3 linked regions of the Homo sapiens genome follow. The protein of the gene in region 3 purifies or fractionates together with the protein of the main gene of each other region. This does not show direct contact. Each region holds a gene or a part of one and is shown on either strand. Other genes may lie near its edges.

The links.
Region 1: the proteins of GSTK1 (region 3) and TK2 purify together in Homo sapiens (co-immunoprecipitation; 3 studies listed by BioGRID and IntAct, with this or other methods). This does not show direct contact.
Region 2: the proteins of GSTK1 (region 3) and LIMA1 purify together in Homo sapiens (affinity purification with mass spectrometry; 2 studies listed by BioGRID and IntAct, with this or other methods). This does not show direct contact.

Annotation. Positions count from the first base shown.
Region 1 is NC_000016.10:66,511,668-66,519,680, forward strand, and holds part of TK2 (thymidine kinase 2, mitochondrial isoform 1 precursor), read right to left. Parts: intron 6,211-8,013; coding exon 6,122-6,210; intron 5,549-6,121; coding exon 5,469-5,548; intron 2,145-5,468; coding exon 2,064-2,144; intron 400-2,063; coding exon 301-399; 3' UTR 1-300. UniProt on the Homo sapiens protein: Phosphorylates thymidine, deoxycytidine, and deoxyuridine in the mitochondrial matrix. In non-replicating cells, where cytosolic dNTP synthesis is down-regulated, mtDNA synthesis depends solely on TK2 and DGUOK.
Region 2 is NC_000012.12:50,203,252-50,211,264, reverse strand, and holds part of LIMA1 (LIM domain and actin-binding protein 1), read left to right. Parts: intron 1-5,196; coding exon 5,197-5,281; intron 5,282-6,564; coding exon 6,565-6,713; intron 6,714-8,013. UniProt on the Homo sapiens protein: Actin-binding protein involved in actin cytoskeleton regulation and dynamics. Increases the number and size of actin stress fibers and inhibits membrane ruffling. Inhibits actin filament depolymerization.
Region 3 is NC_000007.14:143,258,718-143,266,763, forward strand, and holds the start of GSTK1 (glutathione S-transferase kappa 1), read left to right. Parts: upstream 1-4,723; 5' UTR 4,724-4,796; coding exon 4,797-4,868; intron 4,869-5,368; coding exon 5,369-5,450; intron 5,451-5,830; coding exon 5,831-5,959; intron 5,960-6,274; coding exon 6,275-6,375; coding exon of another isoform or gene 6,376-6,543; coding exon 6,544-6,579; intron 6,580-8,046. UniProt on the Homo sapiens protein: Glutathione S-transferase that catalyzes the conjugation of glutathione to exogenous and endogenous compounds. Significant glutathione conjugating activity is found only with the model substrate, 1-chloro-2,4-dinitrobenzene (CDNB).

The sequences.
Region 1 (8,013 bases), on a different chromosome or scaffold from region 3:
TGCTCTCCCTAAGGGCTTCATGAGAGCGACTCAGCAGCACAAAGCCATGGGAGAGGCACCGGGGGAATGTGAGGCTGCGAACAGCAAAGGGCTTGGCAAACCCATTGGTCCCGTTTGTCATTTACCCACGAGGGCCAGAGACGCATGACAAAGACACTAGCAAAGGAGATGAGACCATTAGGAAAATCAAGCTGGCCAGACACAAAGCCCTCCTGGGAGCAAGTTTTTCCAGATTGCTCCCAATAGCTAACTTGGCAGCAGCAGGCATTTTTCAGACATGAGCCATAGACCTTTTGCCTCCTATGGGCAATGCTTCCGATTCTCTGGAGTTAATATTCGATCCCGATTTTGTTCAAAGAGTTCTAACATCCTCTCCATGTGGTGGTCAGCCTCAATCACCTGGAAATTAGACACATGGGTCACAAGGCTGCACTGACCTCAGCAGCATCCTCCTTTCACAGCTGGAGACAGACAGATGGAAGCAGGCAGCAGGGGGCAGGGAAGGGCACAGAAGGTTGCAGGCAGATAAAAAGGAAGGTTAGAGCCAAATCGCTTTCAGCTCTAGGGCAATCTACATTTCCAATGAGGTTTTCACTTAAGAATGTACTACAAGAGCTAGGTATGGTGGCTCATGTCTATTATCCAAGCACTTTGGGAGGCTGAGACCTGAAGATTACACGAGCCCAGGAGTTTGAGACCAGCCTGGGCAACACAGTGAGACCCTGTAAGCTCATGAATGATTTGTTTTTTTCCCTCATCACTTTCTACCCTCCTTTTTTTCCATAATGAGGGAGAAAAATAAGCTGTACTTATTTAAAAATCTACTACAGTAGGCCGGGTGCAGTGGCTCACGCCTGTGATCCCAGAATTTTGGGAGGCCGAGGCAGGCAGATCACTTGAGGCCAGGAGTTTGAGACCAGCTTGGCCAACGTGGCAAAATCCCATCTCTACGAAAAATATAAAAAATTATCCAGGCATGGTGGCATGCGCCTGTAGTCCCAGCTATTCAGGAGGCTGAGGCAAGAGAATCATTTGAACCCAGGAGGCAGAGGTTGCAGCGAGCCGAGATTGCGTCACTGCATTCCAGTCTGGGCAACAGAGTGAGGCTCTGTCTCAAAAACAAACAAACAAAAAATTACTACAGTAATATCTCACTTTCCGGCAACCTCACTGCCTGCAAGAGCCATAAGCAGAAGTGTTTGAGCCCAAACAGATATTCCTATGGCCACGCACAAAAGCTCATGCACAGCCCTGCCTCACATCCCATCAAACAATGCTCCTATAGCCATGCACCAAAGCTTGCGCACAACCCTGCCTCACAGCCAATCCCATGTTGTATATGTAACCATCTTAGGTTCCCTCCAATCAAGACTCGGAGGGACCCCAGACTCCGCATTTCTTGGGAGCATCTGGGCCACTGCTTATTTGTCTGAGTAAAGAAATCTGGAAACAGCAAACTGGAAAACAAGGAGATGGGGAAGTAAGGAAATGCTGACGGGACAGACACATCAATATCAGTCAGAAATGACACATGGCAGCAAGAGAAAGGAGGATTACTGTAAAAAGTAAACACAGGAACGCAGAGACATTAGTGGGCAGGGCAGACAGTTCCACACACCTCAGCATTCCTAAGGGCATCACTGTGTGACAGCCCAGACCAGACAATGACATTCCTTCTGATGACCTGAGTCACCAAACAAAGGTGAAATGAGGCTCTGTGTCATCCACGGAAGGAGGAAGGTCACATCAGAGGAACTACTATCCCAAATGGTGAAAACTGAGACCCGGGTCTAGAGTCTTCGCTGAAGATGCTGGATCAGTGACAACTGCCAGGTGTGATGGCACTGGCACAGACTGCCTTCCCTCGGGTCTGGCCAACTCACTCTGAGACTCAGCCCAGAAACAGGCACTGGGAGAGAGAGCACCAGCCTTCCCACCTTCCTTCTTCTAAGTTGTCAAACTCTAAAGGACTGTGCCCTCCCCTGTCTGCAAGGTGGCTGACATTCCCCGGGTCACTCCTCTTTCTAGAACAGTCTCGTACCCTGTAAGGGAGTCTTACTTACCAGAACAGGGGCTGCCATGGGGAAAAGGCTGCCTTTGATGAGCCACTCCTCATGGAGATGGTGAATTGCTTCCAGGTATTCCTGCCAGGGAAACACAAGCAGTCTGTCGGGAGTGGACAGAGCAGACCCCACCTACCAAGGGTGTCAAGCAGAGGGGGTCAAAGTAGTCAATGACCATGGGCAGTGACTCAGACAAAGGAACCCTGCAAGAGCAAACCTGGCTCAAGTGGACAGCGGCAGACGCAGCCACACACTCGGTGGCCAGGCTGAGCAAAACAGCACAAGTGTCACCAGCCACCCTGCTCTGCTCCACTGGGGGTTCGTGGGCACAAACACTGGCCCTTCCCCTGGCGCCTGAATCAAAGCCAAGGCAAAAGGCAGGACCCCCTCCCCCTCCCCCTCTCCCTCTCCCCTTTGCACGGTTTCCCTCTGATGCCCAGCCGAGGCTGGACTGTACTGCCGCCAACTCGACTCACTGCAACCTCCCTGCCTGATTCTCCTGCCTCAGCCTGCCAAGTGCCTGGGATTGCAGGCGCGCACCGCCATGCCTGACTGGTTTTCGTATTTTTTGGTGGAGACGGGGTTTCGCTGTGTTGGCCGGGCTGGTCTCCAGCTCCTAACCGCGAGTGATCCGCCAGCCTCGGCCTCCCGAGGTGCCGGGATTGCAGACGGAGTCTGGTTCACTCAGTGCTCAATGTTGCCCAGGCTGGAGTGCAGTGGCGTGATCTCGGCTCGCTACAACCTCCACCTCCCAGCCGCCTGCCTTGGCCTCCCAAAGTGCCGAGATTGCAGCCTCTGCCCGGCTGCCACCCCGTCTAGGAAGTGAGGAGTGTCTCTGCCTGGCCGCCCATCGTCTAGGATGTGAGGACCCCTCTGCCCGGCCGCTCAGTCTGGGAAGTGAGGAGCCCCTCTGCCCGGCCACCACCCCGTCTGGGAGGTGTACCCAATAGCTCATTGAGAACGGGCCATGATGACGATGGCGGTTTTGTCTAATAGAAAAGGGGGAAATGTGGGGAAAAGAAAGATCAGATTGTTACTGTGTCTGTGTAGAAAGAAGTAGACATAGGAGACTCCATTTTGTTCTGTACTAAGAAAAATTCTTCTGCCTTGGGATGCTGTTAGTCTATAACCTTACCCCCAACCCCGTGCTCTCTGAAACGTGTGCTGTGTCCACTAAGGGTTAAATGGATTAAGGGCGATGCAAGATGTGCTTTGTTAAACAGATGCTTGAAGGTAGCATACTCATTAAGAGTCATCACCATTCCCTAATCTCAAGTACCCAGGGACACAAACACTGCGGAAGGCGGCAGGGCCCTCTGCCTAGGAAAACCAGAGACCTTTGTTCACATGTTTATCTGCTGACCTTCCCTCCACTATTGTCCTATGACCCTGCCAAATCCCCCTCTCCGAGAAACACCCAAGAATGATCAATAAATACTAAAAAAAAAAAAAAAGGCAGGACCCACACCTGGCTTCTCCCATTTACTGCCACTTTTGCAGCAGCAGGGCCTCAGTTCCTTCAGGCAGGGGCCCAGCCCTGGGCAGCCTCTAAACCCTCCGCTCTGTCTTGCCACCAAGAGGACTGTGACCCTCACCCATTGCCCTTCTACCCCCTCAACAACTCGTAACCTATAGACCCTCCAGACTATAAAGACCACCAACTGCAGAAAGCCTGATGCAGCGGAGCCCAAGGGAAAAGGGGCACAGGCCCTCCTGAGCCATGGGGCCTGCATGCCAGGCAGAGCAGATACTCGTGCTCTCCCAGGCACAGAGTGGGATGGCTCCTCACACAGATTCCACTCGCCATCCCAGAGGCTCGCGTGTCAACTCTGCAGCAGCCTTTACATCTCCTGCCCAGCTCTCCCTTGGCAATAGGAGCCAGATGTGTCCCATGGACCTGGTCAAACCCTTAAGACAATGGCTTGGATCACGGCTTGGACGGCCCCCAGGCTTGGGGAGCATCTGGGTCACTGCACAGAGCTGCTGTGCGCATCACAGCATGGTCCAGCCTGGCCCCATTCCACCACATTCCATCTTCCTAGCATTCTTGTCTCCAAGATTTCAAAGGAGCTGCCCAGAGTGACGCCTGGGCCCTCGTGGCAGGAATGCATCGTGCTGGCACCAAGGAAAAACAAGGCTGAGCAGGATTTCAGGAGTTGGATAGGCTTCCCAGGGCCCCCAGTCCAGCCTATCCTGAGCTCAGAGCCCCTGACACCCCACTGAATGCTTGCCCAGCCTCTGTCTCCCTCCAGTGGCAGCTTCTCACATGGGACATTCAGTTCAATACTAACTGAGCAACTACTAGGCACCAGGCCCCAAGGCACATGCAGAGGACACGGAGGGAATAAGACCCAATCTTAAAAAGCTCACATTAGTGAGGGATGGGGAACAAAGGTATAAACAAATAGTGTCAGTATGCTGTCCTAAGGCCCATGATCACAGAAAGCCAGGGGGTGGGTTTGGGGGGGGTTACAATGGAAGGAAGGTCAGGGGTGGCTTCCTGGAGGAGGTGACATCTGAGTAACACTTTAAAGACAAAGGAAACGACTGTGCAAAGGCACATTTGCATAACTCCACTGTGTATGTGGTTGTTTGTGTGTGGCCACAACTAGTTCCTTATAGCCAGAGCATAGAAAGTAGGGAATGGAGGATGATAACGCCAGAGAGGCAGTTGGGGCCGGGTCATAAGCCGTATTACAAAGTGGGGACTGCATTCTAGCCAGCAGCAAGGCACTGAAAGGTTCTGGGCTGGGAAATTGCACGAGTGGTGATGAGTATTGGAAATATCAGCCGGGCGGCAGCCTGGAGGCCAGATTTTGAAGGGAGATGCAAGGAGGGAAGGGCCAGGGCGAGATGCACAGCCCGGGCCTATACTGGCAGAGTCCCCATGAGAGTCAGTGTGGCCTGAGCAGAACTCAGAAGGGCATGGCATCTCTCCAGTGGGCAAACACCACTAAGCATGAGCACCGCCTCCGTGCCGGGCACTGTGCTAAGCACTAGGGATGCAGCAGTGAACAAGAGGGCTGGGTCCTGCCCTCCTGGAACTCGCATTCTAGGGAGGACACAGAGAGCACAAGGCCAGGCAATCTTCAGGAGGCAGAACAGACAAGCCCTGGTGCTGCCAAGATGGGGAGGGGCAGGTGGGGAGGGGAGGGGAACGCCTCCAAGCAGGAGGGTTGCCAAACTGTGAGTCAGCGACCACAGGAAGCCAAGCAGATCTGGACATCCACGTGGGTCTCTGGCCAAACAGGAAGTCAGAGTTCACCCTCTGATACACTTGGTTCCTGTTCTCTCTCTGCAAACAAGGGCACAATGATCTCATGGGGGTGGGGCCGGGAGAGGAAGCCGGGTTGGACAGAGGTGGTTTCCCAGTTTGTCTTTAACCAAGTCAAAGAGGCCTCTTACCAGCGGAATGACCTTCTCCTCTTCCCTGCATCTCTTCTTTAACCTCTGGTAACAAGTCTCAGGATTGGTCCGAAGGTAAACTGAGGTTAAAAGAATACGTGGCTCTCAGGACTCTGCTCATGGCTTGGAAGCAAAGCAGGCACACAGGCAAAGGCGGGAGGAAGGTCTGCACAGCTCGAGCAGGAAGCAGGGAGGGCCAGCTCTTGGCTTGACCACTGACCCTCCGCCTCGACTTTCATTCTCTTTCAGTGTCAGCGGCCCCGTGGGGTCGTTTTGAGGCTGAATGGGATTCTGTTCATAGACAGAGCTCAAAACAGGCCTCACACCCAGCAGGTCTCAGTGAATGTTCAGGCTCTGTCCTTCCTGTTCCTTTGCAAACTAGAAAAACCCATCAGATCACAGTGGATTTGGGTCTGAAAGTAGCTGAGCCAGGGAGGGAAGTTTAAAGAACAAAGGCCAGGGTTCTTCTCCATGAGAGACCAGAAGTCCCGAATTCTGTCTGCCCTCAGGGAGAAAGCTGAACTCCCATGGGGAAGGAACTGCCAAGGGCAAGTGCCTCACCCACTGCCCCCAAGGGTTGGGGCCCAGCCAAGCACATCCTCAAGGGACCCAGGAGAGAGACAAGAGAGGGAGGTGGGAGGGGTGCATCTCACCTATCAAATCAACAGACACGTCCATGTTCCTCAAGATCCAGTCAAACCATTCCGACAGAACTACATAGTCCACTTCTGGCATCTTCCCACTGCAATGAGAGTTGTAAGGGCTTATTCACCTAAGAGAAAACTTCTGGGCTATGCAATTCCCCCAAAAGGATCTTGAGACGGCTCTCAATGAAAGGAGTCACCAAGGGTACCAGGGCACAGTGTGATCCGTGCAATACTGGACATGCAGTGACAAGGACCCTAAGCATTCCCGACCTCCTGCTGCCTGGGAGCGGCTTATGGCACAATGCTGCAAGGGCCATGGCACGGAGTGATGGGAGAATTCACTTGGGATTGGAACTCTAAGCAGAGAAAGGGACTTTAAAGCTTGTACCCTGAGAACAGAGACAGTGCTCAGGTTAGGCAATGAATCAGCAAACCAATTTCACTTCTAGAAATTTATTTTGTGGACCAGGGTGGTGGCTTATGCCTGTAATCCCAGCACTTTGGGAGGGTGAGGTGGGAGGATCACTTGAGGCCAGAAGTTCAAGATCTGCCTGGGCAACATGGAAAGACCCCCATCTCTACAAAAACTACAAAAAAATTAACTAGGGGTGGTGGCGCATGCCTATGGTCCTAGCTACTCGGGAAACTGAGGCAGGTGGATCACTTGAGCCCAGGGGTTTAAGGCTGTAGTGGGTCATGATCATGCCACTGCACTCCAGCCTGGGCAACAGAGTGAGACCCCTGACTCAAACAAAACAAAAAAATTTATTTTGTGAAAATAATCATGATGCTCACCGCGGCACTGTTTAAACCAATAAAAAACTAAATCTTGGTAAATCTATATAACAGAAAATTCACGCAGTAACTGAAGGATGATATTGTAAAATAATATTTAATGGCATGGAAAAATTTCAAATCTAATGTTCAGTGAAAGCAACAGGATCTAAAACTGTGTATATCCCAACCACATTTCCAAAAGTATTCACCAATGCATCTTGGAAAGGTGGGAAAGAAAAATATCAAAATGTAAAAAGTGCTTTTCTCAAGCTGCAGGACTACATGAGACTTTTCTTTTTTTCTTTATACCTTTTTGTATTTTCCAAATTTTAACAACACATTACTTCTCAAATCAGCAGTGGGAGTTGGGGAGCATTACTACATATTTTAGTTTTTATTTATTTTTTTTTTTTATTTTTTGAGACGTAGTGTCGCTCTGTCGCCCAGGCTGGAGTGCAGTAGTGTGATCTTGGCTCACTGCAAGCTCCGCCCCCCAGGTTCACGCCATTCTCCTGCCTCAGCCTCCCGAGTAGCTGGGACTACAGGCACCCGCCACCACGCCGGGCTAATTTTTTGTATTTTTAGTAGAGACAGGGTTTCACCGTGTTAGCCAGGATGGTCTATTTTTTATTTTTTTAAGACAGAGTTTCACTCTGTCGCCCAGGCTGGAGTGCAGTGGCGTGATCTCAGCTCACAGCAATCTCCGCCTCCTAGGTTCAAGCGATTCTCCTGCCTCAGCCTCCTGAGTAGCTGGGACTACAGGTGTGCGCCACCATGCCTGGCTAATTTTTGTATTTTTAGTAGACACGGGGTTTCACTATGTTGGCCAGGCTGGTCTCGAACTCCTGACCTCAAATGATCCACCCGCCTCGGCCTCCCAAAGTGCTGGGATTACAGGCATGAGCCACTGCGCCCGGCCTACTACACATTTTAAATGTTAACTTTAAAAGAAAGAAAAAAAGGCAAGAAAGTGGGAAGGAAGAACGAGCCAGGGTGAAGGAGAAATCTGGCATCTATTCCTGGTATTCCTGTGGGTTTCCTGTGCCCTGGGAGGAAATGAACAGGAAAGAGAGAGCAGGAATGGACACAGCTGGAGGGCACAAGCCCATCAGCAGGCAGAC
Region 2 (8,013 bases), on a different chromosome or scaffold from region 3:
TGCAACCTCTGCCTCCCAGGTTCAAGTGATTCTCCTGCCTCAGCCTCCCAAGTAGCTGGGATTACAGGTGTCCACCACCATGCCTGGCTAATTTTTTGTATTTTTAGTAGAGATGGGGTTTCACCAGGTTGGCCAGGTTGGTCTTGAACTCCTGACCTCAGGTAATCCACCTGCCTTGGCCTCCCAAAGTGCTGGGATTACAGGCATGAGCCACCATGCCCAGCCAAGCCTTGTTATTCTTAATGTTTGAGTGGTTTAAAGGTGAAATATATTGAAAGTAATGCTGTGCTTCACTGAACCTGCGATATCATGAAAACCCATCTTACCTCACAGCTGTGTTTCTCCTCAGAGCCACAGTCTGTATGAGGGATTTTTCAGAGACAGTTCTCTTCCTATTTTTCTCTGAGACCAAATGGCTTTGTTCATGTACTTTTTTAGTACTTGAAATAAATTAATGCAGAGTTTTGATACCCCCATGGAGCAAAAGGCTTCAAAAAAAAGGTAAGGGGGCCTTATTTAATTAACCCAGCAGTTTAAATTAAAAGCTAACAAAGATGGGAAATTTTATGCGTTTAAAACCAAAGAAAGCCTCTGCCCTGGCAAGGTGTATGCTCTGGTTCTAAATGATTATGCTCCCAATAACAGCAGTGCAGGGACTTCACACAAGACAGAGAAGGATGTGTAGCTCCAACTAGACAGAAAACAGCTCTCTGCAGGTTGTAACATGTAACACATATTCTTGGAATTGTGCTTGAACTTTGACAGAAAGCAAATATCTGTATTAAGAACACAGAACCCGTTTCCTTTTGGTTGTTCTTTTCTTTTTTTCTTTTTTTTTTTTTTTTTGGAAATGGGGTCTTGCTCTGTTGCCCAGGCTGGAGTGCAGTAATCTTGGCCCACTGCAACCTCCACCTCCCTGGTTCAAGCGATTCTCCTGCCTCAGCCTCCCCAGTAGCTAGGATTACAGGCACGTGCCACCATGCTCAGCTAATTTTTGTATTTTTAGTAGAGATGGGGTTTCGCCATGTGGGCGAGGCTGGTCTCAAACTCCTGACCTCAAGTGATCCACCTGCCTCGGCCTCCCAAAGTGCTAGGATTACAGGTGTGAGCCACTGCACCCGGCCCCTTTTGGTTTTTCAAAAGAAGTTTATCAGTAGGCTTTCTCCCATTTTGAGTTTTGAAAATTCTAATTTTTGTAGTGGTTATCTTCCAGTGCAGCAGCATTTGGAATAAATATGTGGAATTTTCTTTATTTTAATGATCAGCAAATAAGAAGTATGTTGAAAACAAAATAAAAAGGTGGGCCAGGCGCGGTGGCTTACGCCTGTCATCCCAGCACTTTGGGAGGCCAAGGAGGGCAGATCATTTGAGGTCAGGAGTTTCAGACCAGCTTGACCAACATGGTGAAACCCCAACTCTACCAAAAACTCAAATAATTAGGTGTGGTAGCAGACGCCTGTAATCCCAGCTACTCTGGAGGCTGAGACAGGAGAATTGTGTGAGCTTAGGAGGTGGGGGTTGCAGTGAGCTGAGATCACACCACTGTATTCCAGCCTGGGTGACAGAGTAAGACTCTGTCTCAAAATAAATAAATAAATAAAAATTAAAAATGTGGATTGAGGGTATCCTGCCAGACATATCTTTTCCTTTTGACCAAGATCTTCATTATCTTTTTTCTTTTTTTTTTTTTTTTTTTTGAGATGGAGTCTCGCTCTGTCACCTAGCCTGGAGAGCAGTGGCACAATTTCTGCTCACTGCAACCTCCATCTCTGAAGTTCAAGTGATTCTCAACCTCAGCCTCCTGAGTAGCTGAGATTACAGGTGCGCACCGCCACCCCAGCTAATTTTTGTATATTTAGTAGAGACAGGGTTTCACAATGTTGGCCAGGCTGGCCTCGAACTCTTGACCTCAAGAGATCCACCCACCTTGGCCTCCCAAAGTGCTGGGATTACAGGTGTGAGCCACCGCACCCAACCACTTCATTTTCAGATAGCGGCTGCTCCTAGAGCAAGAGTATGTTGAGCTGTGTGAGTCATATGGATGTATAATAATTCATGAAAGTATGCCTGACCTGTGTGTGATGTAGCACGGATAGTGTTGTTCCAGCTTGTTTTAGTTTTTATTAAAAATAGACCCAATCAGGCCGGATGCAGTGGCCCACACCTGTAATCCCAGCACCTTGGGAGGCCGAGGCTCCTTGAGCCCAAGAGTTTGAGACCAGCCTGGGCAACGTGGTGAGACCCTGTCTCTACTGTAAAAAAAAAAAAAAAAGAAAGAAAGAAAAAATAGACTTAAATCAACAATATAAATTGCAAAGCTGACTGGATATAAATTATTATTATTACTTTTTGAGCAGGGTCTTACTCATCACCCAGGCTGGAATGCAGTAGTGCGGTCACGGCTCACTGTATTCTTTTTTGTAGAGATGGAGTCTTCCTATGTTGCCCAGGCTAGTCTTGAACTCCTAGGCTCAAAGGATCCTCCTGGCTCAGCCTCCCAAAGTGTTGGGATTACAGGCATGAACCACCAAACCCAGCAAGGAGACAAATTATATATACACACACACACATATGTAATATGTATATAATATATTTTTATTTTTATTATTTCTTTTGAGACAGGGTCACACTCTGTTGCCCAGGCTGGAGTGCAGTGGCATGATCTTGGCTCACTGCAACATACACCTCCCAGGCTCAAGCAATTTTCCTACTGCAGCCTTCTGAGTACCTGGGACTACAGGCGCATGCCATAATGCCCAGCTAACTTTTGGTTTTTTTTGAGACGGAGTCTTGCTTTGTCACCCAGGCTGGAGTGCAGTGGCCTGATCTCTGCTCACTGCAACCTCCGCCTCCTGGGTTCAAGCGATTCTCCTGCTTCAGCCTCCTGAGTAGCTGGGATTACAGGTGCGGGCCACCACGCCTGGCTAATTTTTTTGCATTTTTAGTAGAGACGGGGTTTCACCATGTTGGTCAGGCTGGTCTCGAACTCCTGACCTCGTGATCCTTCTGCCTCGGCCTCCCAAAGTGCTGGGATTACAGGCGTGAGCCACCGTGCCCAGTCTAACTTTTGTATCTTTTTTGTAGAGACAAGGTTTTGCCATGCTGCCCAAGCTGGTCTCAAACTCCTGGGCTCAAGTGATCCACCTGTCTCAGCCTCCCAAAGTGCTAGGATTATAAGCTTGAGCCACTGTGCCTAGCCTTGGGAGATATATTAAATATATATTGAATTTGAAAGAAACTATTCTTACTGGTGTGGTATAAACAGACCAATCCTTGGCTCTGATTTCTGATGTGGTATGTTTTCTGTCTCCAAGGAGGGGGTATAAAAAATATGTAAAAGTGATAGTTCACTTTCTTTTCTTTTTTTTTTTTTTTGAGACAGGGTCTCACTCTGTTTCTCAGGCTGGAGTGCAGTGGAGCGATCTCTGCTCCCTGCAACCTCTGCCCCCCTGGTTCAAGCAATCCTCCCACCTCAGCCTCCCAAGTAGCTGGGACCGCAGGTGCATGTCACCACACCTGGCTAATTTTTTGTATTTTTAGTAGAGACAGGGTCTCACCATGTTGCCCAGTCTGGTCTCAAATTCCTGAGCTCCAGCAATCTGCCCGCCTTGGCCTCCCAAAATGGTGGTTTTACAGGTGTGAGCCACCATGCCCAGTCTCACTTCCTCAAACTTTACAGTAAAGTTGATTAGTCCATTGAACTTAAAGATTTAGTAACTATTTACTAATGTTAAATTCAAAAGGGTGCTAAGTGTTTTATTCTTATCTCCTGTCATACTGGATTTCAGATATCTTTTTTAACCTCAAGTTGTCTGGAAATAAACTGAGATTTGAATGATAGGATCTGATGTAAGGATCTCATTATAAGCTGAATAAACATGACATACTCCCTGTGTACTATGTCTGGGAATATTCTTTGACACTACAGTCTTAAAAATTATAATTTGTAACTTTCATTAAAGATCTACCTTAGATATGACAGAGATAAATGTAGTAATTTAATGGAATCACAAAACACTTCATTAAAAAAAATCTTTGTTGGCCAGGCGCAGTGGCTCAAGCTTGTAATCACAGCACTTTGGGAGGCCGAGGTGGGCGGATCACCTGAGGTCAGGAGTTCGAGACCAGCCTGGCCAACATGGTGAAACCCTGTCTCTACTAAAAATATAAAAATTAGCTGAGCATGGTGGCAGGCGCCTGTAATCCCAGCTACTCAGGAGGCTGAGGCAGGAGAATCACTTGAACCTGGGAGGCGGAGGCTGCAGTGAGCCAAGATCACATCACTATACTCCAGCCTGGGTGACGGAGTGAGACTCTGTCTCAAAAAAAAAAAATCTGTGTCATCCACTTTTCTGTAAGTCCTGGAAATATATGGACAAAAAGGCATGGTCTCTGCCCTTAGTGAGCTTACAGTGCAGTAGAGGGACAGTCACCCAACAGTTTGACCAGGTACCTTGAGAACAGAGGAAAGATTACCTAAATTTATGTTGGCAAGGTACTCAGACTTCATAGTGCTTACACTGAGTCTTTGAAGGAACAGGCATTTGTAAGGCAACAGAAGGACAAAGGAGGCTGGCTCGGTAGGGACCAGATCTAGAACAGGACTTCTGTGACTTACTAAGCACTTCGAGTTTAATTTCAGGAATGAGTAGGAATGCTGAAAGAATTTTGAAAAGGAGGGTAAAATAGATTTATATTTTTGGATAATTACTTTGTATTATTGGGGATAATGGTAGCATCATAGAGACTGGATTGGAAGATAATGAAGAACCAGTTAAAGAGGTATAATGCAGTAGTCCAGGGGAAAGATGATGAAGACATGAACTAAGGCAGCAATAGCAGAAATAACATGAGACGGAGAAAGGAAACAGCAGATTCTGCATCAGCACTTGGCAGTTTAGAAGGACATGTCATTGTCATCTGGTATGTGAGGATTCCCCTCCAATAAGTGTTACAAAGCTTGCTGGTTAGGAAGCCATCTTTAGCAGAGAATATTACCTATATAGGGTTACTTATTTTTCCCTGGGCACCTGTGAATGTGTAGTGCTTGATATTTGTAATTTAAAAAAAATTCTATAGAATATAAAATATAAAATCAAATCTGGATTTTATTTATAAAGAAGGTTTGCAAGTTGAACCTTGCGTCAAGATTTCCCATTGTTTCTGCAAAACTTATCGTTGGGTTTCGTTTTCCAGATTCTCCGGGCCCAAAGCCGAAGTGCAAGTGGAAGGAAGATCTCTGAAAACAGCTATTCTCTAGATGACCTGGAAATAGGCCCAGGTAAGCAGAGAGTTCCATGTGTATGAGGTCCTTTAGGAAGTACTCACTAGTAGTAACATCTTTTGGACTCGAAGCCAATGCTTTTAAAGGAAGAGTGGCACAAATTAAAAGGAAGTCTGCCTATTAGATGCAAGCCATTCTCAAATCTCATTGCTCTCGATAAATAGCTTTTTTTTTTTTTTTTTTTTTGAGACGGAAGTTGACGTGCTCCCAAAGTGCTGGGATTACAGGCATGAGCCGTCATGCCCGGCTGCTTTTTTCATATTTTTAATCCACCCTTGTTAGTGGTAACCTATGGTAAGCAAAGGGTACTTTGAGGAGCTATAAGTAAAGTGCTACGATCAGTTTTGCCTCCAGTCATCTGGGGTTTGAGGGCTTCAGTAGATGGGCTGTGTCCCCTATCAGGTTTGGTTACCCTGTATTACCAGTGATAACATAACACTTTGAGAGTGGAATTATGTTTTAAAGGGGACATATACAGGCACTTCACAAAAGAAAAAATTAGTAAAAACAGGAAAACATCAGCTACCTAGTCATCAAAGAAATGTAAATTAAAAAGCATTGAGATCTCTTCTTTTTCATGTTAAATTAGCCAGAATTTTAAAATACGAGCCCAGGCATGGTGGCTCAGACCTATAATCTCAGCACTTAGGGAGGCTGAGACAGGAGGACCACTTAAATCCAGGAGTTTGAGACCAGCCTGGGCAACATAGACCTATCTCTACAGAAAAAAAAAAAAAAAGCCCAGCGTGGTGGTGCATCCTTGAAGTCACTGCTACTTGGGAAACTGAGGTGGTTGGATCATTTGAGCCCAAGACTTCAAAGCTGCAGTGAGCTATGATTGTACCACTGCCCCATACTCTAGCCTGGGTGACAGAGTGAGACCCTGTCTCAAAAAATAAAATATGCAATCCTCAATTATGGTAAGGTTCTTTTAATGCTAAGAAAGTGAGTGAATATTACTTTATAAATGACAATTATATTCCTGATTTTCTTCTTCGTGCTTTTAACAGAAGATATTGGCCATTAGATAAAAATAACCCAAAATTTAGAATTTTGAAATTATTTGAATCACTTTTATCTTCTAATAAAACATGTTGGCCAGTCACGGTGGTTTACACCTATAATTCCAGCGCTTTGGGAGGCTGAGGCGGGAGGATATCTTGAGCTCAGGAGTTCGAGGCTGTAGTGAGCTATGATCGTGCCACTGCACTTCAGCCTGGGTGATAGAGTGAGACCCCATCTCAGAAATAAAATAAAACATGTTATTTGGATGCTTCCAGGTCAGTTGTCATCTTCTACATTTGACTCGGAGAAAAATGAGAGTAGACGAAATCTGGAACTTCCACGCCTCTCAGAAACCTCTATAAAGGATCGAATGGCCAAGTACCAGGCAGCTGTGTCCAAACAAAGCAGCTCAACCAACTATACAGTATGTGTTCTGCATCATTCATTCATTCATTCATTCCATCATCCAGCAGATGGTCACTGAGTACTGGAATTAGGAAATGTCACCAGACCCTTGTATCTGAGCCCTGGTCCCCTAGCTGTTCTCTTTTCACATGAACCCTACCCTCGCTGGATTTGCAGTTCTTACCATGGTCTAATCCTGACTTTGCTTTCTTAGTCCTGGTTCCCACCCCACTCACTTTTTTTGTGATGTTACCAGTGAGTATCATTGAGAGTTTCCCTGGCTCTTCTACTTAATCTTTGTGTTGTTAAAGAAGTAGTATTTTATTAGTTTTAATATAACTCTTATTTTATCTTGGTTGTTGAGGGAAGAAGGAAGAAGACTGAAGAGCTTATTTTGGCTTTTGAGGGAAGAAAGAAGAAGACTGGAGAGAAATATCAGCTGTGTTCATTAACGAGGGTTTTTTTTGTGATTTTTTACTGAGATATAACTCACATAATATAAAATCACCATTTTAAAGTATACAATCTTGTGATACTTAGCATATTCACAAGGTTGTACAACCATTACCACTGTTTAATTCCAGAACCTTTCCATCACCCTGAAAAGAAACTTCATACCTGTGTAGTCACTCCCAACTTCCCCTGCTCTCATCCCCTGGCAACCACTTAGCTACTTCCTGTCTTTATGTATCTGCCTATTTTGGAAATTTCATATGAAGGAGTCATACAGTAGATCTTCTACTTAATCTTTAATCCTTACGATGTACTGTTTTCCTAAAGAAGTAGAATAGTAGATAAGGAAAAGGGAGAGATCACAAGAAGGTGACGTGCTCAGTAAGCATGAAAATTTTGATATTCAGCTGGGTGTGATGGCTCACACCTGTAATCCCAGCACTTTGGGAGGCCGAGGTGGGCAGATTGCCTGAGGTCAGGAGTTCAAGACCAGCTTGGCTAACGTGGTGAAACCCCATCTCTACTAAAAATACAAAAATTAGCCAGCATGGTGGCAGGCACCTGTAATCCCAGCTACTTGGGAGGCTGAGGCAGGAGAATCGCTGGAACCCAGGAGGCAGAGGTTGCAGTGAGGCAAGATTGCGCCACTACACTCCAGCCTGGGCGACACAGCAAGACTCCGTCTCCAGGAAAAAAAAAAAAGATTGGTATTCAAAATACAATGGAGGGTCCTTCCCCTTTACGTTGTCCTGTGCTTAACGGGTAAGCTGATGCTACAGAACTGCTAAATTGAAGTTACCTTATAGCCAGGCGCAGGAGCTCACACCGTAATCCCAACACTTTGGGAGCCTGAGGTGGGTGGGTCA
Region 3 (8,046 bases):
CATTGGCTCATCTACGAAAGATGAGAATTTGGATCGCATACACCACCTCTCCTCTGCCTCCTCCAATGTTTGATAATTATATCATGTTTTGTTCCTCTACTTAGTGCTTTTCCCACTTCAAATAACTTACTTATACCACTATTTCTTGTTTCAATAGCTCTAATCAGTATCTAGAGTAAAATTAAGTAAGCAGGAGGCTATTGACCTGAGACAGTCTCCATGCTTTGAATTCCTATGAAACAAAATGCAACCTAACTTAGTATGTAAACAAACTGAAACTTAACTTAGGAGTTTCATTTTTATAACAGATAACCAGGTCTTTGCCAATCACAAGCAGCCAAGCTTCAGCTAAGTGCAAGCAGCCAACGGACTGGCTCATGTCTAAATCAAGCAAAACACTTAGCTGCAACAAATCAAACTATTTATGTACTTTACCTTCCTGTTCTGCTTATAAATACTCATTGCTTACAGTTGCAGAGCTCTCGGAACCTCTTCTGGTTCTGAGTACTGCCTGATTCAAGAATCATTCTTTACTCAAATAAACTCCATTAAATTTAAATTGTCTGAGGTTTTTCTTTTAACACTAAATACCCCTCTCAGCAATAGGAAGATGATAGCCCATAGAAGTGAATATATTTTTCTTTTTGTTGTCTCTACTCCATTTTATCCACAACAGGGCCCAACCTAAAAATAATAATAATAACAACAGTAATAGTATGTGGAGATAGACTGTAAGGACTCAGATCAATGTTTTATTATTCTGTGATTCTTAAAGTAAATATACATGAGTCCATACTGATATAAATAACTGACTGAATAAATAAATAAATAGAAAGAAGGGACAACTCTCCTGTCAAAAGAATTCCAATTAATAAATGAAAAAAACTAAGGAAATAGAGAATCACCATTAGAACACCACAGTAACAACTGCTGCAGGCAAGATCCACTGATGAATAATAAAACTGATGGGTGACAGTTTAGGGAGCAACTGGATATTTGCATAGCCTCAAAGTATCTCCCCCAAATATTTATTAGTTACCATGGTAGTGTTAACGTATATCCACAACTTCTTTAATATTCTTCCCTCCAGTGGATGGACTTAATCTACTCAACCCTCACTCCCAGGATGGGCTGCACTTACTGACTCCCTTCCAAAAACTAGGGTTTGGATAGGGAAAAATGGTGACTTTACAGTGCAGAAATTTTCCAGTTGCTCCGCCTTAACCAGGTGACCAAGGTAAACACCACCAGTGATGAGTCATGTTGATATCCCTGTACCTCATGACATGATTCAAGAAGGGCACCTTACCTCTGTGGTAATCTTCCCAAAAGTCCACAACCTTAGTCTTACTCTGAGGAAATATCAGACAAACCCAAATGAAGGGACATGCCACAAAATAGCTGATCAATACTCTTCACAAGTGTCAAAGTCATGAAACACTAGAAAAGGCCAAGAAACTCTCATAGATATGGGAAGAATAAAGAGACATGACAACAAAATTCTGTATGTATGCTGGACTGGATCCTGGAACAGAAAAAGAACACTAATGAAAAAACTGGTGAAATCTGAGCAAAACCTGCAGTTCAGTTAATAGTAACGTACCAGGCTGGGCACAGTGGCTCATGCCAGCACTTTGGGAGGCTGAGGCAGGGGGATCACGAGATCAGGAGTTGGAAACCAGCCTGTCCAATATGGTGAAACCCCGTCTCTACTAAAAAATACAAAAAATTAGCTGAGCGTGGTGGCACACGCCTGTAGTCCCAGCTACTTGGGAGACTGAGGCAGAAGAATCGCTTGAACCTGGGAGCCGGAGGTCGCAGTGAGCCAAGATTGCGCCACTGCACTCCGGCCTGGGTAACAGAGTGAGACTCCAGCTCAAAAAAAAAAAAAAAAGTAATGTACCAATGTTAATGTATTGGTTTTTATCATTATCATACTTATGTAAGATTTTCACATTAGGTAAAGCTGGATGAGGGGTATTCAGAAACCTTGTACTATCTTTACAAGTCTTCTATAAATCTAAAACATTTCCAAATATAAAAAGCTTTTTAAAATAAGTGATTGATCTACCTTTGAAATGAAACCTTAAATTACCACGCTGAATTAGCTCTTGGACACTTTAAAATTATGATTACTGGAGAAAAACAAAAATGTAGCTGGGCATGGTGGCTCATGCCTGTAATCCCAGCAGTTTGGGAGGCCGAGGTGGGAGGATCACTTGAGCCCAGGAATTCAAGACCAGACTGGGAAGCATGGTGAAACCCCACCTCGACAAAAAACAAAAATTAGCTGGGTGTGGTGACATACACCTGTAGTCCCTGCTACTCAGGAGGCCAAGGTGGGAGAATTGCTTGAGCTTGGGGGGCAGAGGTTGCAGTGAGCCAAAATTGAACCACTGCACTTCAGTCTGAGCGAGAGTGAGATCATGTCTCAAAAAAAACAAGGTGGGCTGTGGTGGCTCACATTTGTAATCCCAGCACTTTGGAAGGCCAAAATGGGTGGATCACCTGAGGTCAGGAGTTCAAGACCAGGCTGGCCAACATAGTGAAAGCCCATCTCTACCAAAAACACACAAAAAATTAGCTGGGCGTGGTGGTGGGCACCTGTAATCCCAGCTACTTGGGAGGCTGAGGCAGAGAGAATTGCTTGAACCCAGGAGGCAGAGGTTGCAGTGAGCTGCAATTGTGCTACTGCACTCCAGCCTGGGCAACAGAACAAGACTCCATCTCAAAAAAAAAAAAAGTTTAGTTTCAGTGGTTGTTGAACAATTAGTTTACTCTGCAAGTAGGTAATGATAACATCATTTTTCATTCCATTTTGCATGCTCTTCTCCATGTAGGGGTTTACCTCGTATCTCTGTATTCTGATAGCCTGGAGTTGTTTTCCTTATTGATACAAATGAAAAGTGGAATCTTTATATGTTTTCCAATTTATTAAATTAGTAATGTTAAAAATAATTTTAACAAAGTTAAATGGAATTATTTTAAAATTCTGTTTCTTTGCAGTAAATGTAATCCCAATATAAGACAATATGACTCACATATTTGTGAAAACGAATAGGGCCAATCGTTTCCATTATCACCAAAATTATCTATAGTGAGGCCTCTCCATCTTCTACCAGTCCCTCTTTTTTTTCACTCACTCAAAATATATGTATCGATGGTCAAATGTGTCCCAGACATTGTGCAAATCTCTGACAAAGGTAACACAAGAAAATGTGTACTCTGAGAACTTCTTATTCTGCCCCAGTTTAGGAGATTCATGCAACTGCCAAGCAACAATAATAAGAGCTAGCAGTTATTGGAGTACCTCATTCCTCACAACTCGTCATAAGGCAGGTGTTATCATTAGATATTCCCCATGTGTATGCAGGATGAGGAAATAGGTTCAGAGAGGTCAAGTGGCTCACCCAAGGGGCACAGCTAAGTGAAAGGCACTGCAGGCATCTCAAACTACCCCCTTCCCACAAGACTCCACTGCAGAGCAGGACAGTCACCCTGACACCAGCCCAATGGGTTCATCTTGCCCATTACCCAGATGGGGCTAATTTATCAAGACAAGGGAATTGCAATAGAGAAAGAGTTTAATACACATAGAGCCAGCTAAACAGGAGACCAGAGTTTTATTATTACTCAAATTAGCCTCCCAAAATTCGGAGGCAGAGGCTAGGGGACTTTGTGGGTTTTTTTGTTTTTGTTTTTGTTTTTCTTTTGAGAGGGAGTCTTGCTATGTCACCCAGGCTGGAGTGCAGTGGCATGATCTCGGCTCACTGCAACCTCTGCCTCCCGGATTCAAGCAATTCTCCTGACTCAGCCCCCCGAGTAACTGGGATTACAGGCACATGCCACCATGCCCGGCTAATTTTTGCATTTTTAGTAGAGACAGGGTTTCACCATGTGGGCCAGAGTGGTCTTGAACTCCTGACCTCAAGTGATCCACCCACCTCAGCCTCCCAAAGTGCTGGGATTACAGGCGTGAGCCACCATGCCCGCCGGCTAGAGTTTTTTAATGATAGTTTGATGGGCAAGGGGCTAGAGAATGGGTGCTGCTAATTGGTTGGGGATGCAATCACAGGGGTGTGGAAAACCGTCCTCAGTGCACCGAGTTGCATTTGGATGCGGGCCACAGAGGAGTCACTGGTCCAGGTGGAGTCATCCTGTCATTAGAAATGGAAAAGTCTGAGAAGGTATCTTCAAAGGCCAGTCTTAGGTTCTACAAAAGTGGTTATTTACAGGAATAATTGGGGAAGTTGCAGAGCTTGTGACCTCTGGAACAATGTCTGGTAATTGTTAATGCCTACATCTTAGCAGAATTCAGGCCCCTCTCATAATCCTAAACTTGTGGACTTTTATTAGTTTTATAAAACTGGTTTAGTTTGGGGAAGGGCTATTATCATTTAAACTATAAACTAAATTTCTCCCTATATTAGCTCGTCCCATGCTCAGGAATGACCAAGGGCAGTTTGGAGGTTAAAGGCACGATGGAGTTGGTGAGTTCAGATCTGTTTCACCTTCGTAATTTTCTCACTGTTAAAATTTTTGCAAAGGCGATTGCAGCGCCCCTTGTCCACACCTGCGCGCTCCCCAAGGGGTCCCTACCCACCCCGCCCCTGGCTGGGGGCCGTAGGCTGGCCCTGCCCCGCTGCGCCGGAGGTGGACCTCTACCAGGGCAGTTTCTCTCTGAGGCTGCGCGCTAAGGCGGTGGGCGGTCCCAGGCAGGCCCAGAAGCTGGGCAGCCTCTGCCGGGTTCCGGGAAAAGGAGCTCCTGCTGCCACTGCTCTTCCGGAGCCTGCAGCATGGGGCCCCTGCCGCGCACCGTGGAGCTCTTCTATGACGTGCTGTCCCCCTACTCCTGGCTGGGCTTCGAGGTGACGCTGGGAGGGGTCGCCTCGGCAGTGTCTGGGGAGTGAGGGCGGAGGGAAGAGTGAGCGCAGGGCTCCGGGACAGAGGTCTCGTGTAACTCCTGGCGCCGCCCAAGGGGTTAAGGCAAGCAGGGAGAGCTCCGGGGCTGAAGGTCACTTTGTGCTTTTAAACGGAATAGAGTCGCTGGCTCCAACCCGAGCCTTTATATCCCGACTGCAGTTTCCCACGGTGGTGGAAAGAGGGGCGGCTCCAAACATTCAGGGAGAAATGCAGAACACGGCCACCTCTTAGCCCAACGATGGCAGTTTTGGGGAAAACTGGCCACAGGAGCGAAGATCCTGGAATAGATTTCTAGTAGTGAGGAGAGTTTTGCCAATTTCAAACCAAACAATGTAGGGTGTCCGCATAACCCCTGCTCTGCACTTAGCGCCTCCCTTCCCTTTCCCTCGGCTCTTTCACTTTTCCATCTTGCACACTGGCAATCGTTCTTGACCTCTGCCCGCAGATCCTGTGCCGGTATCAGAATATCTGGAACATCAACCTGCAGTTGCGGCCCAGCCTCATAACAGGGATCATGAAAGACAGTGGTAGGAAGGGAGGGTCGGGGCAGGGGTGATCTCAGTGGCCCAAGAGAGCCGACCCCAGCGGGTCCTTATATTGGCACTGGCAGCCAGAAAGCTGCCCTCTGCCCCGTCTCTACTAAAAATACAAAATTAGCCGGGCGTGGTAGTGCATGCCTGTATACCACAGCTACTCGGGAGGCTGAGGCGGGAGAATCGCTTGAACCCAGGAGGCGGAGGTTGCGGTGAGCTGAGATCGCACCATTGCACTCCAGCCTGGGCAACAAGAGCGAAACAACAAGAGAAAAAAAAGGAAGCTGCCCTCTGCCCAAAACCCACGTCGAGGTCCCCAAACCTGGGACCCTTAGGTCTTTTCTCACTTAGCGTGCCCAACCTTCTCCTGGCAGGAAACAAGCCTCCAGGTCTGCTTCCCCGCAAAGGACTATACATGGCAAATGACTTAAAGCTCCTGAGACACCATCTCCAGATTCCCATCCACTTCCCCAAGGATTTCTTGTCTGTGATGCTTGAAAAAGGTGAAGAGAGTGGGATGTAGACAGGGTATCCAGTGAAAAACACAGAAGTCGGAGATTGAGGGATTGATAGGATGGAGGGGCTGCGGGAGACTAAAGCAAGTGAAGCCTGCCTTGGGAAACCTCAGGATCAGCCTTGAGCGAGCTGAAGGTTGCCGGGCATGAAAGGGAAGAAGAGCAGGCAAATAGGTCATGGGAACCTTGGGTGAGAGGCTGAGGGCGGAGGAGCTCTGGGGGATGTCAGAAGCAAGGAAGAGCTAGTCCTCCACCAGGAAAGCAGCAAGAGGAGCCCTGCCTCTGGGTGCCTCTGCCCCACAGGAAGTTTGTCTGCCATGCGTTTCCTCACCGCCGTGAACTTGGAGCATCCAGAGATGCTGGAGAAAGCGTCCCGGGAGCTGTGGATGCGCGTCTGGTCAAGGGTGAGTGTGGGGCTCTGGGAATCCTCTGGGAGGACCTTGGATGACTTTCTGACCTTCCCCAGGCACGTTTTCAGGGTCATGATCCTGCCCCCGCCCGGGGGATCTACTGTCCTCCCAGTCACACCCCTCTCCCCGCACCGCCTTCCTGCTGTCTTCTCTTCTTCCCAGAATGAAGACATCACCGAGCCGCAGAGCATCCTGGCGGTGAGTGTCCTGGCTCCACCCCAACTGCACTCATAGAGAATCTGAGAACAGTTGGCGTTTGGGGGTAAAGAAGACAATAGGTCTCTTATTGCATGGAAAAGGTTATAATTACTGGGGAAGAAAGGATGTCTGTGATTCAGGGCACAAACTACTGAAAAGTTGGAACTAAGGATCCTCAAAAGGATATCTCAAGGTTGAAAGGGGAAGTGCAAAAGGGACAATATATGGGAAGAATTTATTTGCTGAAAGATGTCAGTGAGAGAAAGATGCTCAGTGTTGGAACCCCTGGATGGGGAGGGATATAGTATTCACAAGTCTCCACAAACTCCAACACAAACCTCACCAACACATCCAGAGTGGAAGGCAGGAGACTTGTTCCAAGAGGCTTTAAAAAGACGAAAAGAGATAACTAATGCCAGGGTTATATAGGAGCCTGAGTGAGAACAAATGGAAATAGCTCAAAACATTGACCAGTGAGCCATGGATGGGGGTATAAAAGTAAGTTTGTCTTCAGGATTAAATTAGGAAATTCAAAACAGTATTATTCCTCTGGTTTACAAAAAAAAATAGTTGAGACCTATTCAAATTTAATATATAAAGTGGCAAATCACACAAAAGTTAAACGTATAAGGAATGGCAAATATATCTTCTACAGTCTATACTCCTGCAAAGTACATGTGTAATTTTTAGCTTGCTTTTTTACTTCATATTTAATCATTTTCCATGCTTTTTTTTTTTTTTTTTTTTTTTTTGAGACACGGTCTGGCTCTGTCGCCCAGGCTGGAGTGCAGTGGTGTGACCTCGACCCACTGTACCCTTTGCCTCCTGGACTCAAGCAATCTTCCCACCTCAGTCTCCTGAGTAGCTGGGACTACAGGCACACACTACCATGTCTGGCTAACTTTTTTATTTTTTGTAGAGAAGGGGTTTCACTGTGTTGCCCAGGCTGGTCTCAAACTCCTGTGCTCAAGAGATCTGTCTGCCTCCACCTCCCAAAGTGCTGTGTTTACAGGAATGAGCCACTGTGCCCAGCCTCCATGGAATTCTTAACTCTGAAAGTATAGTTCTTTGTTTCTATAGAGGTTCCACTGAGTGGACTTATTTTTGTTTTGCTTAACCATTTTTCTGTGGTTAAACATTTTGTGTAGGACATAATTCTCTAATTTAACCAAGTCAAAGATAGTGTCTCATTAGGACAGGCTACATGAATTCCTGGGTCCCACTTCTGATCTAGGAAGTCAAGTTGCAGTGGTTGTCAATCTTGGCTGTGAATTAAAATCACCTGGAGCACCTTGGCGCTAACCCTTTCCCCTGGAATTGTGATGTAATTGTTCTTGTTCTTTTTTTTCTTTCTTTCTTTTTTTTTTTTTTTTTTTTTTTTTTGAGACAGTGTCTTGCTTTGTCACCCAGGCTGGGGTGCAGTGGCATGATCATGGCTCACTGCAGACTCAACCTCTTGGGCTCAAG